Homo sapiens: one gene and its partners. The protein of the gene in region 3 interacts with the protein of the main gene of each other region in a biochemical or structural test. Each region holds a gene or a part of one and is shown on either strand. Other genes may lie near its edges. The genes, in order: MEP1A, PTH2R and PTH.

What was found.
Region 1: of the proteins of PTH (region 3) and MEP1A, one has a biochemical effect on the other in vitro, tested with the Homo sapiens proteins (one study listed by BioGRID).
Region 2: the proteins of PTH (region 3) and PTH2R form a complex in vitro, tested with the Homo sapiens proteins (one study listed by BioGRID).

Annotation. Positions count from the first base shown.
Region 1 is NC_000006.12:46,817,356-46,821,010, reverse strand, and holds part of MEP1A (meprin A subunit alpha precursor), read right to left. Parts: intron 1,483-3,655; coding exon 1,307-1,482; intron 1-1,306.
Region 2 is NC_000002.12:208,448,178-208,451,832, reverse strand, and holds part of PTH2R (parathyroid hormone 2 receptor isoform 1 precursor), read right to left. Parts: intron 1,085-3,655; coding exon 1,024-1,084; intron 1-1,023. UniProt on the Homo sapiens protein: This is a specific receptor for parathyroid hormone. The activity of this receptor is mediated by G proteins which activate adenylyl cyclase. PTH2R may be responsible for PTH effects in a number of physiological systems.
Region 3 is NC_000011.10:13,493,163-13,497,390, reverse strand, and holds the start of PTH (parathyroid hormone isoform 1 preproprotein), read left to right. Parts: upstream 1-1,393; 5' UTR 1,394-1,480; intron 1,481-4,228. UniProt on the Homo sapiens protein: Parathyroid hormone elevates calcium level by dissolving the salts in bone and preventing their renal excretion. Acts by binding to its receptor, PTH1R, activating G protein-coupled receptor signaling.

The DNA of each region.
Region 1 (3,655 bases), on a different chromosome or scaffold from region 3:
ATGCACTGCAATATATGAATCCGCATATAAAATTGGGATCTAAATAAAACAGATACCTACACAAGGCTATTATTTGTTTTATAAAAGCCATGCCGGAAACAGTTAAGGCATTTTAAATATATTAAAGTTTCATTAATCTCTTACTGCCAAAAACAATGTTTTTGCATTCTCTTCACTAATTCCTTCTTAAAAACTAGGTATCTTCAGAAACACAGCATTGACTTTTTTTTTTTCTACCACATCAGGAAGCTGCTCAATAAATGTTTTAGTGTACTCAAAAGCACTCTACTTCATTGTCTCAAACAATTAAGGAAAGTAAGGGCCGGACACGGTGGTGGCTCATGCCTGTAATCCCAGCACTTTGGGAGGCCAAGGCAGGCCGATCACCTGAGGTCAGGAGTTCAAGACCAGCCTAACCAACATGATGAAATCCCATCTCTACTTAAAAAATACAGAATTAGCCAGGCATGGTGACACACACCTATAATCCCATCTGCCTCCCTGAGGCAGGAGAATCGCTTGAACTCAGGAGGCAGAGGTTGCAGTGAGCTGAGATCGCACCATTGCACTCCAGCCTGGGCCACAAGAGCAAAACTCTGTCTCAAAACAAAACAAAACAACCTAAAGAACAATGAAATAGTTAAAATAATACAACGGAATAATACGTAAGACAAAACTGTTGTATTTTGCATTGTATGAGGTGGAGGCAGAAGAAGCAAGGTGCTTAGAAACAAGGAAGAAAAAAACATTCACCTTTGATTAATCAGAACCCAGATAACTAGCTAGAATTAACATAATTGGGGTGTTATTTCAGATAAAAGCATTTATTTTTGTTTTTGTTTTTAAACATTTTTTATTGATTTGGTAAAGCAACTGGAAAAAATACTTCTTGAGTATGCCCTATAGTCATGGAATAATCAACTAAACCTCAAACAGCCTTCTAGAGGCACAGGAGATTTCACATCCAGAGAAATGACTTTAAAATCTGGATTCACTTTCCTCAGTAAGACAGGAAAGTAGAGTTTTAGATAGAGTTTTAATGAAAACACTGATATAAAGCAAAGCTTCTGGTTAACTTTCAGTTGACCCCCACAGTGAGTTAACACCATTCCTTGAGGCCCTTATCTGCGATGAATTCCGGTCAGACCAGCACAGCCCACATAAAGGGCCAACAAATCATAACCTCTTCAGAGTCTTTCTTCCCACTAGAGAGGCTGAAGCTCCTGTCCACACAGATTTGGCTTGGTCATCTCAGGATTGGTCTCAGCCAGTGATAAATGTGATAGCAATCTCCGCCCAATCACACCTGAAAGAATTTGGTCCCACCAGATGTTCACATAATCATCCCGGTCCGTCCTTGACTGCTCGTGGTAAAATCCCAAAGCATGCAGGATCTCGTGTTCTATGATGGCCTTATAGGCACATCCTTGGCCAATGGAAATGTTCTGTCCCACATGTTGGTCACCAACCTCAGACCAGCACCTTTAAAGAGGAGAAGAGGAAAAATTTCTTCTAGAGAATTTTTAAGTGGCTGTCATTCACAGTACTCCAAAACACAAATTAGGAGGAAATTAGGCTTGATTTTAGAAAGAAATTACCAACAGCATTCTCATATGCTAATGGTCCAAAGATGGGGACTGCTTAAAGAAGGAGCATTCCCTAGAGGGAATACTGTGCAGGCTTTAAAAGTGAAGATATAATACATTATAAAAGTGGCACATACTCAGAAGCAAATCAATCCTATTATAACAATTCGTCAAGGTAGAAAGCAATAAACATTGGCATTCCTTCTCACCTCCACAAACCCACAGGGCACTCCAAAGAATAACACTGTTGCCTTTATCTAAAAAATTGTTGTCTGAGGGAAAGCTGTGGTTGATTTAATTTTTTTGAGATTGGGGGTCTCACTTTATCACTCAGGTTGCTGTGCAGTGCCACAATCACAGCTCACAGCAGCCTCAGCCTCCTCTACTCAGGTGATCTTCCCACCTCAGCCTCCTGAGAGGCTGGGACTTGGAACCACAGGCAGATAATGTTTTTATTTTTTTGTAGAGACAGGGTTTTGCCATGTTGCCCAGCCTGGTCTCAAACTCCTGGGCTCAAACGATTTGCCCTCCTTGACCTCCCAAAATGCTAGGATTACAGGTGTGAGCCATCGCACCTAGCCCTTTTATACTTTAATAAATTTTCAAAGTTCCTATAATGAACAAGCATATATTTTATGATCATAAAAAGATCCTCATTAAAAAGCAAATTAATAAAATCCATGTCTTCGGAAATAGCAGATCTACAGTGTTATGACAGCACAGAGAAGGCTGCCTAACTTATTTCTGAAGGGTATCAGGCAAGGAGGACCTGTAGCGTCCCTCTGAAATCAGTGGGCTCGGGAACCTCTGTCAGATTCCCTGAATTCCTTACGGTAGAATGTCTTCCTCTTTCATTCTCCCCCCAATTATTTTTTCTCTTCTCATAAACCCAATTTTTCACCTCTATTAGCAAACCCAAAGCTTTCCACAAATTGTCTCCTATTGGCTTTAAATTGTCAAATGAAGATCTATATTTTACCCAATGCTGAGCAGAAAAGAAAGATTTCCTGATAGTCATAAATGCAACCAATGGATTGCAAGTTTCATGGTGACAGTCACAGTGTCTTACCTGCCAATGTTCTCCCCAAGACTACTGACACAGTATACCTTCAAAGGCTAACAGATTTGATTTTTACTCAAAGATGAATCTTAGTTATTTATTTTCTAATAACTTTATTAAGGTATAATTTATATACTATAAAATTCTTTAATTTTAAGTATACAATTCAATGACTTTTAGTAAATTTACAGTGTTATGCAAATGTAACCATGATCAACTTGCCTCTCTGATAGTGGCATTTTATTACCAAATCAGAGTTTACTCTGCAAAATATTCACAACTCAGAGAAAGCATTTATTATTCATCTTTCTTTTTAAATTCCTCCCCCAACAGAAAGACATAAGTTGCAAAAATACCATACATTCCACCTCACTGAGAACTTTTGACCTTGTCTTTCTGAAAGAGTCCCAGTTAGCCTCCAACTTCAGGAGACCAGTGCCCTGAAGGGCTTAGGGGCACTTTGGGCCAGTCCCTTCCCAAAATATCTTCCTCTCTTTTTCCCTCTCTTAAATTATCTGTAACAGAGACATCTCCTGGCCATAGGTGATTAGGTTTCCCAGATTCAGTGCTTTTACAAAGAATGTCTCTCAAAGCTGACCTACCCCTTAATCAAGTAGTTGGGACTCACTTGAAAACAAAAAAAGAAGTTGGGAGAACTTCACTGTGAAAGTGAGAATTTTGGAAAGTAATTATGTGGATTTTGTTTTATTTTTAAGGAGTTTCTTTGTGAAAAAAGAATGATGCAAAAGTGGTAGCTGAAGAATGGAAATAAATTTGTTAATAAAGTTAATTGTTTCTCTGACGTTTTCAATGAAAAATTAAGGGTTTTAGCACTTCCTTGAAGGTCAGAGATTGCCAAGGGACAAAATGCAGTAGTCAAAAGCAGAGAGGCCCTAAAATGTGTGGTCTTTGCAAGGCCTGAGATATACTTTAAATGTTTCCCCTTTACAGAAAAATAAACTATCTAACTACTATTGGTTATCTCCATTTATATGACCTGCAAAAACCT
Region 2 (3,655 bases), on a different chromosome or scaffold from region 3:
AAATGATACATTTTAAATGATTTATAGCATTGTTTTCTTGTACTTTAAAATGACACATTAAATTAGCTCCATGCTACCTGGAAGAACTTAATGACTCACAGTTAGAGATAAATTCCACTTCTAATATGTGTTTATTATTTTAAAATATTTAATTCTGCTATAGAAGATATGGTAACAAATGGGATGCATGAAACCCACAGTTTGCATTAAATATAGATAAGGATGAGTTAGTAGACCACACGTGTGTTAAACCCAGGTACTAAAGACACATGAGGCAACTGAGCTCTAAACATTCATAATATACTAAATATACAAGAGCCATGAACAATCCCTGATACAAAGGAAGTTCTTAATATTTTTGAGGGCATTATCAGCCTCAAAAATATTTTGATTTTGAGGATTCATGGATTGATGGAACTCCTTCCCACATGTCCTTTTCCCAAGGGCCACAAATAAAACCCAGAACTTCTCTGCAGGCTAATTCAGAAGCTACAAATGTAGCCAGTGTACTTGCCTCTCCATCTCTATGAGGAAGTATGTGTCACTGGCCCAGGGCACCAGATTCTGTCTGTAGTTCCCCTTCGTGCTACCTTATCGCAGGTCCTCATAACCACACCATCCTCAGGAAAAGTTGATGTGGCAGAGAGAGAGAGAGAGAGTATGAACACTGCCTATCCTAGGAATCAGGTAGTGTAGTTCTTCAACCTGCTTTCACTAAATCCTAAGTGGATTCTCTTACCCATCTCTTTCCACTTGCTTCTCACATTATATTTTACATTTGTTTCTTAATCTATGGAGGTCAGGCACCTTCATCTAGTCTGCGAGTGTTTCTGCTCTATGACCTCTGGAATAGACAGCTTGCTGGTAATGTGTTGGAAGCTACCATCGCATCAAGGTAATTTTCCTTGTGGCATCCCTAAAAAGCAATGGCATCAAGAACAGAAGCGAGTGTGAATTCTGAGCAGGAAGCCTGAGTCTTGAGAACATCTGAGGTTCTCTCGTTTCCCCTGCCTTTTCACTCACCTCGCATCAGCCAGAGTTGCTCGTGCCACAGCCCATGCTGCAACAAATGCTGCTGGAAACCCTGAAATCAGAAAATGATTCAGAGACTAGATTTATTTTAAGATTAAGGAGGTTTTTTCCTCAAATTCACCATATATAAGAATATACTATTAGCTGTTCAGAGATAAAAATAGACATGAAAATTTCTGATATGTGAACAAGAAAAGTCCACTTAATTTTTAATCATGTCAGTTTGAGAAATTAGCAAGAATATTGATGTTATTTGTTCCTCTAGTCTGAAGATAAAAACTGGCCTAATTTTCATCTGAGGGGTGTAGGGAAAAGCCATATTTGGAGAAGAGTGAAGTTCCTAGGGTTGGAAGTAAGCAATGGTTGGCATTTGACTTTGACTCTTGTCACGCTGACCATCATATGCTCTCAAGGAGTGAAGCAACACAGGGACTCCTGAAAAGCTGAGGGATGCTGTTGTTTTAAAAACTTAGAATTTTTTCATCCTAAAAATGGAAGGCATACTGAGGCAAGTTATAAAAATCAGGAAGTTTTAACCAGTTTAGTCTCTTCTTTTAGTTCACGTTGGCACAAGACAGAAGCATTTTCATGCATTAATAGAAAAGGGTGACCACTATATTTGTCTGATGATTTGAGCGCGAGATATTTGTCCTTCATAAGTGCTAAACACCTTCTGGGCTTGTAACATCAAATCCATTATACCGACTTTCGTTTGCCCCCCAGTAAAAGTTCACTGTCCAGCTCATGTTGTATTTGATTAAACTCTGACATCACACACAAAAAAATCATGAACCATAACTTATATGGAATACTGCAGTAGGGGACTGAAAGACTTAAGAGATGACTTTTCATTATGTGGCCTTTATGAAAGTGGTTTAAATAAAGGATATACAGAAACCATAAGGAAAACATTTTAGAATCTAGGAAGCACCTTACAAAAGGGGAAAACAAAATTTTGGTCTAGCCAAGAACATTTTTTATCAAGCATAACTTTAAATTCTTAACCTTTAAAAAAATTGTAATTTTTTTATATTCTTTCTTAGCAACAAAGTGAACAAAGAAATAGGCTTAGAAAAAGAAAATTTTCAGAAAAAGATGAAAATGATGATATGCACAATAATGTCTTTGGTCTCCTTAGTGACCATCTAACTTAAGTTCAGCCTGCCTATATCACTACTGAATTTTATGATTCTATATTCCAATTTTATTTCTTGTTTCTATAGTATTCTTTCTTTAATCTGCTCAAATTCTGTGTTCTAGGAATTTTTTGTCAAAATAGACCTACCTAATTCTGGTTATTTCTTAGGTTCAGTTTGCATATTCTATCTATCTATCTATCTATCTATTTATCTATCTATCTATCACATTTCTCCATTAATCATTTATTGTCTATTTATGTGTCAAAGATTGTTCTAAATGATATAAATAATGAACAAATAAACAATATCCCTGTTTTCTAAAACTTATATTCTGGTGAAGCAGTCAAAATTAACAAAGCAACTTCAGTTGCTTTTGGTTATGAATTGGTGCTATGAAGAATAAATAAAAGTGATACTATGTAATGGGGAGGGGACAGCTGCTTCTGGTAGGATGATTAGATATAAATCCACCATACAGTCTGGCATAGATTCTACCACATGGCCTGACATAGATCCCTCAGCTGTTCTATCTTGGTTGTCTTCAAAAAGTGTCTGCCTGTCTTTCATCAATTTTCACATCTTATCATTCTTATATCTGCATCTTCTGCTTCCTTTACATTCTTCTGATCAGGTACTTCCTGAATGCTGTTCTATACAGTATTTATTAATGGTGGTTGAGTTGGCATTATGTTTTAGATGATAATTATGTCAAATATCGTACACAGGCATTATGTCTTCATAGAATTGCTTTTCTCACCTTCTTAGAGAATCTTATGCATAAGACTAGCATAGAGACTACCATGGAAGAATGAAGAACAGAAAACTACTTTGGGATCCTTTAAGGATTTTTTATCACGAGTCTTAATATGAATTGTTACATAATTTAGAACACAGAAATAAAGGCAAAAATACTTGACATGTAAATGTTGTTTTAAATTTAAATGTTAAATTAAGTAAATTTAATATAAATTTAAATGTTATCTAGTATGTGCATTTACTGAAAGTTGAGTTATTTTCTTTTTTTTTTTGAGACGGATTCTTGCTCTGTCACCCAGGCTGGAGTGCAGTGGCATGATCCCGGCTCACTGCAAGCTCCGCCTCCCGGGTTCACACCATACTCTTGCCTCAGCCTCCCCAGCAGCTGGGACTGCAGGCGCACGCTGCCACGCCCGGCTAGTAGAGACGGGGTTTCACCATGTTAGCCAGGATTGTCTCGATCTCCTGACCTCATGATCCGCCCACCTCAGCCTCCCAAAGTGGAGTTATTTTCATAAGACACGTCAATACAAAATAAATAAGTTTTGTGAAGACAAAACTTTAAATTAACTTTAAAATAACTACAAATTAAAAATGTTGAATATGATACATATGATCACAACAAGAAAACAAACAAAATAACCTAAAGGGTCAGAGTGCATGCATCTTGTGTGGGAGACTTTAACACCTGTCTCTGTGTTTAAACACTTACTGCCAAGTGGATGATC
Region 3 (4,228 bases):
CAGTGTATGTTCCCATTTGTTTCTACTGCTTCTAAAATGGAGCCTGGAGCAACACTCTAAGTGAGGTTAACCCAGAGTGGAGAATCTCCTAGGACAGGACTAGTATATATCTCTCATTATAAACTCCATACGGTTACTATTCAAATTTGTACTGGCTCTTACCTAAGGTAGAGTCAAACCTTGACAATGGCTAGTAGGAAAAAGGATGACATGAAGCCAGGATGGGACCAGAGCTGAGAGAACTGATCCCACTCTGGCACCGGATCTTTGGTGGGAAGGCAAAGCTGTCTAAAGGAGTCCTAGATATATCAAAGACATTCAGGGTGTTTTGACAGGTGGACCAGGAAAATATTGCTGGAGGAATATTTGAAGTCAGACATGTGGCAGCATCATGCCTCCAATAGGTTTTGGAGCAGGCTCTCATCATCCCTTAGGGAACATGAGAATAAAGACCTAACCCCTAGGGGAAAATGTTGCAAAGAGCTTTTGCTGTGTTTTCAGATGACTTTGCAAATTAAAGTCAAGAAGACTGGAGTTCAAAGAAGGGCTGTATTTCTAGGCAGAAACTGAGGTAGTAAGAATCTGGTGTCATAAAGACCTTTGTTGAATTCCATCTTTTCTGCTTTCCAAGCCTAAGTTTCCTCATGTAAAAATGGGGATAAGCACTTAACTTTAGTACTTTAAGTACTAACTTTAAAGGACTGCTGTGAAGATCTAGTGGGATAATATATGTAGTTAGGCATGCAGTTAGTGCTTATCAAATGTTATTATTATAGATTAAGATGCACAAATAAAATATAAGTTAAATAAATTTTAAAATAATTTCACTTTTGAAGCTTTTAAAGTAATTATGTACTAAGAGCATTTTCTCAAATTATTCTTAACACTTCCTTTAAGAAAAGGGCTATATCTGTTTTTTGAAAGATGACCAGAAGTGACATGGATTGGTTGAAAATGGCTTGTAAAGTAAGCCTAACATTTATGATTTATTACCATAAAAACTGTACCAACAGTACGGTTATAACAAATACACTTATTTTTGGGTTTTATTTTCAAGTAAGATAATGACTTTATCATAAACCTTTGAAATCAGTCTTTTTACAGTATAAATTCAGATTCATTAATCCACATAGAATTTTTCTCGATGGTATAATTCTGTATTTGTTAAAAGTCTTTGCATAAGCCCCTTGTCAAGCCAAATGCTGTTTTCCTTTTAGTATCCAATTATCTGAAACTTAAGAAGAGTGTGCACCGCCCAATGGGTGTGTGTATGTGCTGCTTTGAACCTATAGTTGAGATCCAGAGAATTGGGAGTGACATCATCTGTAACAATAAAAGAGCCTCTCTTGGTAAGCAGAAGACCTATATATAAAAGTCACCATTTAAGGGGTCTGCAGTCCAATTCATCAGTTGTCTTTAGTTTACTCAGCATCAGCTACTAACATACCTGAACGAAGATCTTGTTCTAAGACATTGTATGGTAAGTAAACTTAAAAATTCACTTCTGAATCTCATGAGATTTTGATAATCAAGTTATTATTTAATGTGTACCATTTCTACAAATACCATGTTGTTTCTTCAAGGTAAAATGCTAAGAAGTTTGAGTTATGTTTAATATAAAATGCCACATACAAAATAAATTAATGCTACTCAAATCACAAAATCCTTTTTGATTAAAGTCTTCTGAGATACCTTGCCTTTTAAAACCTCATCTGAAATTACAACAAAAAATCATTAAAATTTGGCATGCTATGCTTTAATATAATAGTATCGGTGTCAAAATTTTGAAATAAAACAGGTTGATGGTGAATGAATAGTTCTGATTTAAATAATCTTTATAAATTTATTAAGTGGAGTTAATATTCTGTTTTTCCTGCAGAGTATTCTTATCTAGATTATTTATTTTATGGCTCATAAAGAGCCCAATCTGTATACTAAAGTTGGATAAGCCCAGTTTGACTAGTAAATATTTATTTCCTTTACATAAATGACAGCTGTATTCTGAAAACAGTATTTCCTATGCTATTTCTAAATGATGCAGTTTCCCTGTAAAATAGGAGTACATAACTACTCTATGTGTATGTTAAAAGGTAGTACACTGAGCATTAAGGAAAAGCACTTCTATAATAACAGCCTTTGCAAGTACTGAAATGCAGATTAAGGCAAGAATATCCTATACTGATGTGAAACGAGGAAAGAGACAAAAGTTATATTAAAAGATAATTGTTAATAAAATAAGTTGAAGAAATAAGCTACAAACAAGCATTCCATTCAGAGATAAAGCTCGAAATCCATATCACAAGTAATTAATCAGATGATTTTTAAATGCTTTGACACATTATTTTTAATGCTAGGAGAAATGTGAATTAATTTAGTGAAAATCTCTAGATTAGCACCTATTAGTTTGGTATTTATGGTTATTACAATGCCTGAAATGAAGGTTACTTAAGAAAAGGATTTGCTACGTAAATAGTGTTAACAATTTACACTATGAAGAAAATTAGGCATTTTCAAGCAAGTTATAAACATTTAGGTATAATCAACATAAAATGCAGTGCGGGGGGATTTCTCAAAAATAGGCTCTTTCATTCCTCTTGTAGCTTAAGATTTCTGCAGTGTGACAGAAGGGAGCATGAGAAGCATGGCTCACCAGCCAGCCTCTATTGTCTATGTAATTAGAAGCTTCAGAACTCACTAATACCACTGTACCTTTCACTGGCGCATTACCCCATAAAACTTGAGATGAGGTGAGATCTGAGTATAAAGATAGGTCAGAAGTATTTTAAAGGGCTTAATTTGCCAAAAAGAAAAGTAAAAAGCTAGAGACCCTTTTTGCAGAACATTTGGTGACCACACATTTGAGGGAAGATGTGGCATTAGATGAAGCAGAAGCAAACCCTGCTCTTAGGGGCTCATCTAGGTGAGTGCACAGCCTGTGACACTACAGGGAGAGGCTCAGTAAACTGAGATCCAGCATTCTGTATGACAGAGGCATTGCTTATCACAGAGGTTCTGAATTTTAAGTAGGAAGTACATAATGAAGAGGGCTTTAAAAATTGCTAAGAAAGCGAGTCACCAGGGCTGGCAGTAGTGTAACAGGGCCATCCTGAGCTGTTAGGAGAGTAGATGCAGGGAGGGCTGGTGACCTCCGTGGGTTTATCTGTTGGAGACTCTTCTCTCCAAATCCCAGGCCTGGCTTCCAGCACCATCCAGCTGTGCCCAAGAAGCCACGCTGGTCTGTTCTCCAAGTCTTTTAAATGGTGCCTAATTTTTCTAAGTGAGCTTAGCAATGAGAAGAAAAAAAAAACATGAATTATTTTTCTGGAAAATCAAGGAGACATGGGTAACAACAGGCACTAATAAATATTTATAGATGAGTGAATGAGGAAATAATTACATAAAAAAGGTCAGTGACAATTGATAAATGACAAGGAAATATTTAATTAGGTAAAAGTAAACCATTGCTCTCTATACTAGGATAGACTTTATCTACTTCGTCTTTTCCTAAGTCAGCATGTTAATTCTGGGGGAGGATCATAAGAAAGGAAATACTTTTTTAAAAAAAATTTAAAAACATGTAACAAAGCAAGGGTAAAATATATGTATATACATAAGTGGTATGACTGTAAAACTGTACTTTCCATTAGTTATTAGCTGAGTTAAGAGAATGATCACGTTGAAGTACTGTGTGGACTAGAAATGTACTCTGTCATCATGCAATGAAATGTTGCTAACATTTTAACATAGCTCATTTATGCAGAATGAATTCTGGCAGTTTACCCCAAGTCACAGTTAGGACGGTAGATGGTGAGATCGCAGATGCGTGATTATCTAGATTCAGTGTTACATTTTTGATGTTTATCACTCAGTGGATTTTTATTAATATGCTGATTAAGTTATTTACTTGGCCAGTCATTGTGCTAAATAGTTGCTCTTTTGTGTTTCATTGCCTTGATGTTTGAGTGTAATCTAGCATTTTAATACAGTGTTTATTTTGCATGATCTTTAACAAATGTTTTAAGCAATTTTAAAAAGGCAGGATGTTATTGACATTATACATTGAAGTCTTAACATTTTAATATTTATAGTGCTTATTAGTTTGCAAAATTGTATAATTAGGAATTATTTCAGAGACAATGTTTTCTTTTTCAGGTGAGTAGTTGCCGCTTAATATCATTGGAGTACATTCTTTATACTGTTTGTGAAATTAATACTAGCATATTAAGTG